Linked DNA regions of Homo sapiens. The protein of the gene in region 1 purifies or fractionates together with the protein of each later gene. This does not show direct contact. Each region holds a gene or a part of one and is shown on either strand. Other genes may lie near its edges.

What was found. The genes of interacting proteins can lie anywhere in the genome.
Region 2: the proteins of F9 (region 1) and EOGT purify together in Homo sapiens (affinity purification with mass spectrometry; 2 studies listed by BioGRID and IntAct, with this or other methods). This does not show direct contact.

What each region holds. Positions count from the first base shown.
Region 1 is NC_000023.11:139,551,239-139,554,895, reverse strand, and holds part of F9 (coagulation factor IX isoform 1 preproprotein), read right to left. Parts: coding exon 3,632-3,657; intron 1-3,631. UniProt on the Homo sapiens protein: Factor IX is a vitamin K-dependent plasma protein that participates in the intrinsic pathway of blood coagulation by converting factor X to its active form in the presence of Ca(2+) ions, phospholipids, and factor VIIIa.
Region 2 is NC_000003.12:69,007,114-69,010,770, reverse strand, and holds part of EOGT (EGF domain-specific O-linked N-acetylglucosamine transferase isoform a precursor), read left to right. Parts: intron 1-910; 5' UTR 911-924; coding exon 925-1,134; intron 1,135-2,242; coding exon 2,243-2,343; intron 2,344-2,949; coding exon 2,950-3,058; intron 3,059-3,657.

The sequences.
Region 1 (3,657 bases):
TCTTTGTGAGATTTCTTCACCAAGTGATCACTTTATTTCCCACCCTGGCTAATTTGAAAGATAAAAGAAACAACTCTGAAGAGAAAGGTTCTTATGAAGCATCAGCATTTTGAAACACTCTTTTCTAGGTGACACTGCTAAACAGTATTTCATATTTCAAAGCTAGATATATAATGTTTTCACCACTGAAGCCCCAGCTGTTGCTTGCTTTCTCTTGATGCCTTAGTCACAGCAGGTTTGCTGCAGTCTGATCTGCAATCAAATCTAGTATTTCCTCCCTGCAGATTAACCATGACATGGTGGAGCTGGCCCATCCACAAATGAGGAGAGATTCTGGTTTCTTTCATTTCCTGTTTCATTTTGTCTAAAAATGACTTTTATACACTCAATTTATCTCATATTTTTGAAAACCAGTAACCATTCATAAGGAACTGGATGGAGGTGGTGTGGAGGAAACAATGCAGAAGTATGACAGGGTCTTTCACAACTATTCTGGAAAGTAGCTCAGCTTCTTGCCTTTGGAAAAGAATAAAAGTGCTTTGAATCTGTACACATCAGTAATCTTAGTTCATGTGGATGAAATAGGGAGTGAACATATGTGCATGTGTATGTGTGCACATGCATGTATGAGTGATCTTGAACATTCCAAATGATCTTAGCTAGGCTTGACAGCAAAAAGACAACAGGTACAATAACTATAAGTGTGCAGTGAGGTCATGAAATGATTTGAAATAATGTGTATCATTTATATCTTCTCCCTCCCGGAACAACCACAACCACCATCTCATAGTCTTTTCTGCTTGAAAAGAAAATAAGGTGTCTGCTTGAGTTACTAAACTTTCTTTCAGGAAACATCTGCATTGTTAATGCATTGGCAAACATCTGGTTTAAAGGGGGTGGGTGAGAAACGGAAATGATGTGACTAAATTGAGCCTTTATACCCTGTTCCCCTTTTTAGTTCTGATTTAAATGTATTTGCCATTTCATTTCTGGAATGACAAGGAGACAATGCTAAACTCACAAAGCAGACATCCTTTTTTTTTTTTTTTTTTAATCTTGGACTTTTTTTTTTTTTTTTTTTTTGAGACGGAGTCTCGCTCTGTCGCCCAGGCTGGAGTGCAGTGGCGGGATCTCGGCTCACTGCCAGCTCCGCCTCCCCGGTTCACGCCATTCTCCTGCCTCAGCCTCCCGTGTAGCTGGGACTATAGGCGCCTGCCACCACGCCGGGCTAATTTTTTGTATTTTTGGAAGAGACGGGGTTTCACTATGTTAGCCAGGATGGTTTTGATCTCCTGAATCTTGGACTTTTAAAAACGGAAGTTATCTTCTTAGCTAATATATTCTCCTGGGTTCTTGGATCCCCTACTCTGAGCACTGTTCTATGTCCCACAAACCCAAGGAAGATAATTGTCATAAAGTAGGATCTTTTGTTGTAACCATGTTATCCATGGAAGTTGGACACATAATGAATGAAAATACATGAGAACACAAAATGACAAAATTAGAGAGAATAGATACATGGATATTAAATACATTGAAGGCATAATAACAGTGCTTGCACTTAAGAGGGATTGTTCCAGGAAAGGTTCATAAAGAAGGTCAATATTACAGAGTTGTGAAGAAGAGTAAAGATATGGATGAGTGAAGGAAGGGGTTATGGTAGGTAAGGGAAGCAGTCCTCATAGGGTGCAATTAAGTAGAAACAGAGGAGGTAAAAAGGAACATACAGTGTCCCATTTATGAGTTATAAGATCAGGTCCAGCAAATATTGTCTTTTTAAAAAGCAAAGGTAAAAGAAAGGGAAAACCTTGATTGTGATGTTCTGCCACTCTTTGATACCATTCTCCACAATGCTTGTGCAATTATACCTACCACCCCATCCCCAGGTATATGTGTAATACCTTACATCCATTATGTTGAAAAATGGCAGGCATTCTCAAGAATCCTGGATAGATACACAGCTAGTCCCAGAAAATTCCAATGCTGTTAAAACTGAGGACATTTACCTGATTCTGGCTTAAATTGTCACCAGTTTGATAATTGCAAACTTTAAATTTATCAGTCTCTAATGGCAGAGATTCTAACCTCAGTAGAGAAATCCATGAAATTACTACTAAATCATGACTGTGGCAACTAGGGAGTTTTAAGTTACACTAAACTATTATAAGTGCTATCCAATAGAAATTTCTGCAGTAATAGAGTGTTCTATCTCCGCTTGCACTCTCCAATACAGTAGTTACTAGCCACATGTGGTTGTTATGTGCTTAAAATTTGGCAGGTGCAATTGAGGAATTGAATTTTTAATTTCTCTTAATTGTAGTTAATTTAAATTTAAATAGCCATATGTGGCTAGTGGTTACCTATTGGACAGCACAACTTTATATAAGGACCATCCTGGCTTCCTGCCTGGGGAGGGGGGCCAAAGAGGTGGGTTATTTCTTCTCACAGACGGAATCTCTTAGGCTTCAGCTGTAGGCTAAGTTACAACCCAGATTTTGCTACAAATGTAGCTCTTGGTTGTTAAATGAAAAATGTGCATAGGTAATTCTACATATGTAGGTTGTTTGCAGACTACGCTTGGAGAAATGTCTGCAGAGCACCCGGGAAGGACTAGGTACAAGTGCATTATTTGGTGTTTTGAACCCCGGCTTCTGTAACAAGTTCATTTCCTTTGGGCCAGTGTTTTTCTTTTTCTGTTTTTTGAGATAGGGTCTTACTCTGTCACTCAGGCTGAAGTGCAGTGGTGTGATCACAATTCACTGCAGCCTCGACTTTCCAGGCTCAGGTGATTCTCCCACCTCAGCCTCCTGAATAGCTGGGAGCACAGGTGGGAGCCATCACACCTAGCTAATTTTTGTATTTTTTTTAATTAGAGGTGGGGTTTCGCCGTGTTGCCCAGGCTGGTCTCAAACTCCTGGGTTTAAGCAATCCTCCCGTCTCAGTCTCCCAAAGTGCTGGGATTATTGGCATGAGCCACTGCACCTGGCCTAGTTTTCAAACTATAATGTGCATCAAAATCACCTGCAGTGCTTGTTTGCGCACAGACTGCTGGGCCCCACCCCCTAGATATTCTGATTTGGTAGGTCTAGTGTAGAGCAGGAGAATTTGCATTTCTACGTTCCCAGGTGATTCTGATGCTACCACGAGAACTATAGTGGTAGATCAAGACTCTCTCTCATGCCCTGTTTCTTGGAACCTAGTTCTTGCCTTAATCCTTCCTCCTTGAGTCCCTTTCTTTACCCCCTTTTAAATAATCCAATTTTTCTTAGCCTAAAGACTTTCCAACTCTCACCAGTTTTTGCAAGGGCTGAAGCTGAAGTAGTGCCCTGAACCTGAGTACCTGCGACCTTTCTTCCAGACCTTCATGTTGTTGACCAGTTGCCTGTCTGGAATCCTGCTATGCTGTTTCCTTAATGCCAAATTCTTCTTGACCTGTATGGTAGCTGGTTTTGAGCCTCTCTTTCACCAACTGCTCATCTCTGGAGGCCTTCTCACATTGGTTAGTGCTGAAACTTGCCTAAATACTTCTCACATCCCAATAGGTCTGTCTAGTAAAATAGCCTCAGTCTCCCACCTGGCCTGTGTCTTGCCAGCTGAGCTCCAGTTTTGACACACCATCAGTATAAAGTACCTGCCAAGGGAATTGACCTGGTTTGG
Region 2 (3,657 bases), on another chromosome or scaffold:
TCACAGATACTTTTCCCCTCCTCATCATTCAGATCTCAGCTTTAATGTTATTTAGGCCCCTTCTCTGCCCCACATGGCTTTAAACTTTTATTTAATAAACATTTCCATAGCATTTAGCATGTGCCAGATAGTTTTCGAAACACTTTACCAATAACTAACTCATTTAACTCATGACAGCTCTATGATGAAGGTTTATTATTATTTCCATTTTACAGATGGGAAAGCTTAGGTGCAGAAAGGTTAAGTAACTTGTTCCAGGTCTTACAGCTGGGAAGCTGCAGATTTGCGATTCAAATCCAGGTGGTTAAGCTTTAAATGTTCACCATGCTATGTTGTCTATCATATTACTTTATTTAGTTTCAGGTATCACTAAACTGGATCCTATCAAGCCCTTCCATAATTTTTGTAAGTTAAAAAGTTTTATTGGAACACAGCCTCATCCATTCTTTTATAATAGACCATGGCTACTTTTTTGGACAGAGGCATTGTTGTGTAGTTGCCACAGAGATCTTATGTCTGGCAAAGCCAAAAATATTTACTGCTTCTCCTTTACAGGAAAAGTTTGCTGGCCCCTAGTTGGTTTGATTCACAGGCCCAGTCATCAGCTGAAGTTGTTTATTTGATTGCTTGTTTATGACAGTTGTAGTAGGTTTAAAGGCACCATGAGAGCAAGGCTCTTTCTTGTTTTGTTCACCTCTGTATACCCATTTGCTAACGTGGTGCCTGGCACCAAGCAAGTGCTCAAAAAAAATTGAATAAAGGATCATTATTCAGTGGGATAGCAAAGTGCTTTGTAATTATACTTAGCCCTTGACCCTTTGTTTTTTTTTTTTTTTTGTTGTTGTTGTTGTTGTTGTTTTGGCTTTTAAAGGAAATTTGTTAACAAAGTTGTCTTCATTTTGATCTCTAGGTTTGCAGGTTGCTATGTTAATGTTGTTTGTCTTTGGAGTCTTACTTCATGAAGTCTCACTGAGTGGTCAGAATGAAGCTCCTCCTAATACTCACAGCATTCCAGGCGAACCTCTGTATAACTATGCCAGCATCCGCTTGCCAGAGGAGCACATTCCCTTCTTTTTGCACAACAATAGGCATATTGCCACTGTCTGTAGGAAAGACTCTCTTTGTCCATATAAGGTAGGTATTATTTCTTTTCTCCTTATTTTTATGAGGATGCAATTTCAGCTGGCTTACAGGTTCTGCTTTATAACCTGAAACTGAAGGCAGAATTCTAATTTTCGGTTGTCACTGTATAAGTTAATCATTGTTTCATATAATACTTCTAAGTGACTAAACTGCTTAAAATTATGTCCCATTCATAAGAGAGAAATTTAAAATCTAAATCACTTCTAAAACAAATAAGTAGCCAATACTATTTGTAAACTCTGTAAAGAAGCAATTAGATTTTATGCAGGAAAGAACATCTTGTTAAAAGTAACTAAAGAATTTCACACCTCTTCTTTCTTAAACGGCACATGAGAGGATCGGTTAGCACTTAATTTCAGTAATAACACCTCAGCCTCTGTCTCCACATAATTAAGCCTGTTACTGTGGCTTTCTTTCTGTTTTAGAGGAGTTGGAAAGGCCTCAAATAGGAGCCCATTAAGACATCTCACAGGGCCCCAGAGATCAAAGCTGGGCATTGTGAGACACTTCCTTTCCCATGGTGCTGGCACAGGAAGCATATGGAAAAGCAGACTTGGGAATCAGACCAGCATTGCTCCTGGGGCCTTGCAGAAGAGCATTCTCAACTCCTTGGCCAGCAGCAGCTGGGTGGTTCCCAAGGGTGGCAGAGTTGTCCATGTGTTGTGGGGTCTCTGCTGATCTTGATTGCTAAGTGAAGTTGCTGATTGATTCAGTTTAGCTGTGATTCCTTTGGTAGCACAAATTCCAGTTTATATGTCTTTTAGGGACTGATTTTAGAATCCGCTTGCTCACTGAGAAAGGTGGTTTCTTAAGCTACTTCAAGAAATTCAAATTCAAGTGGTCTTTGAGCGTCTAGGTAAAGCCCAGACTTTCGGTTAGGGGACCGATATGGTGGGGGTGATGAGTAAGGAGGATTGTTAAGAACCTTGAGACTGCTCTTTTTAGAATTAACTGTAAGTTTTAAATTTATTGTTATAAGAATACGTATTATAAATGTAAATGTGAATGCTCTATAATGATTTGTTTTCTTAATGGAAAAATCTAAGAGTCTTCTCTAAATGTCAGAAGAAGGGAAATCAATGTAAGTTTTATGTTCTAGAAACACCTAGAGAAGCTAAAGTACTGCTGGGGTTATGAGAAATCCTGCAAACCAGAGTTCAGGTTTGGTTACCCAGTTTGCAGCTATGTCGACATGGGATGGTAAGTTTCCATATGGAATACCCTCTTCAAGTCTTCCTCTTTCTATACAGTGTATGTTGATGCCCTAATTTCCAGCTAGATTCTTTTGGTTTTAGATAGTAATTCATTTAGATATTAATTTGCTTGCACAGTCATGAATTCAACTTGACTATTTCATACTGGGATAGGAATATCTGTCATTTCCTCTGCCAGAGGGAGAAACAGCCAGGACCATAGATAATTTTTTCCCCCAGTGTATAGTAAGAAGATAAATGGATGGTTTCTTCTTGATTCTTCCTGGGAGAATTAAGTATAATTAGTACTTCCAATACATGCAATGTTAATGAGGTAAAGAAAATATAGTAATTAAGAATGCATCATTGGCTTCAGTTTCAGGTGATAACTTCATACATGTCTGTTATGTATTTTATGATAAAGGAATAATTCTGTGAATAACTTAGTTTCGTAACTTCATGTAGTGAGGCGTAGTTTTGGAAAAACTATGATAATATACTGTAACAAAATTAAAGTAATAAGGAACCTCTAGCATTTTAACCTTTAGAATGAAAATTCAAGGTCCAAAAAAGTAAAAAGAAAAAAACACAGAATATTTTTATTTGCAAATAGGACGGACACTCTTGAGTCAGCTGAGGACATATTTTGGAAACAAGCTGACTTTGGATATGCCAGAGAGAGGCTGGAGGAGATGCATGTGCTCTGTCAGCCTAAGGAAACGGTGGGTATTTTGCTCCTTACTAAATAAACTTGTTTATTTAATTTTAATTTTATTTATTTTTGAGACGGAGTTTCTGTCTATTGCCCTGGCTGGAGTGCAGTGGCGCGATCCCAGCTCACTGCAACCTCTGCCTCCCAGGTTCAAGGAATTCTCCTGCTTCAGCCTCCTGAGTAGCTTGGATTACAGGCGCGTGCCACCCCCCCCCGCTAATTTTTATATTTTTAGTAAAGGTGGGGTTTCGCCATGTTGCCAGGCTGATCGCGAACTCCTGACCTCAAGGGATCCACCCACCTCAGCCTCCCAAAGTGCTGGGATTACAGGCGTGAGCCACTGTGCCCAACTAAGCTATTTTATTTTTATTACTTATTATTGATTTTTAATATTTATCATTTAGCTTGTAATGTAAAAACAAGATAGACGGCACTATGAAAGGAATTCCTCACTCTCACTTAGTTATTGGCATAGAATTTTATGTAACTTCCCCAAATAGGTTGTTTTCTTTCCTTTGGAAACCCTGTCCTCCTTATCCCACATTTATCAGATAGTCATATTTTAAGACAGTCGAAATATTTTTAGGTTTAGAATCATTCCCCCAAACA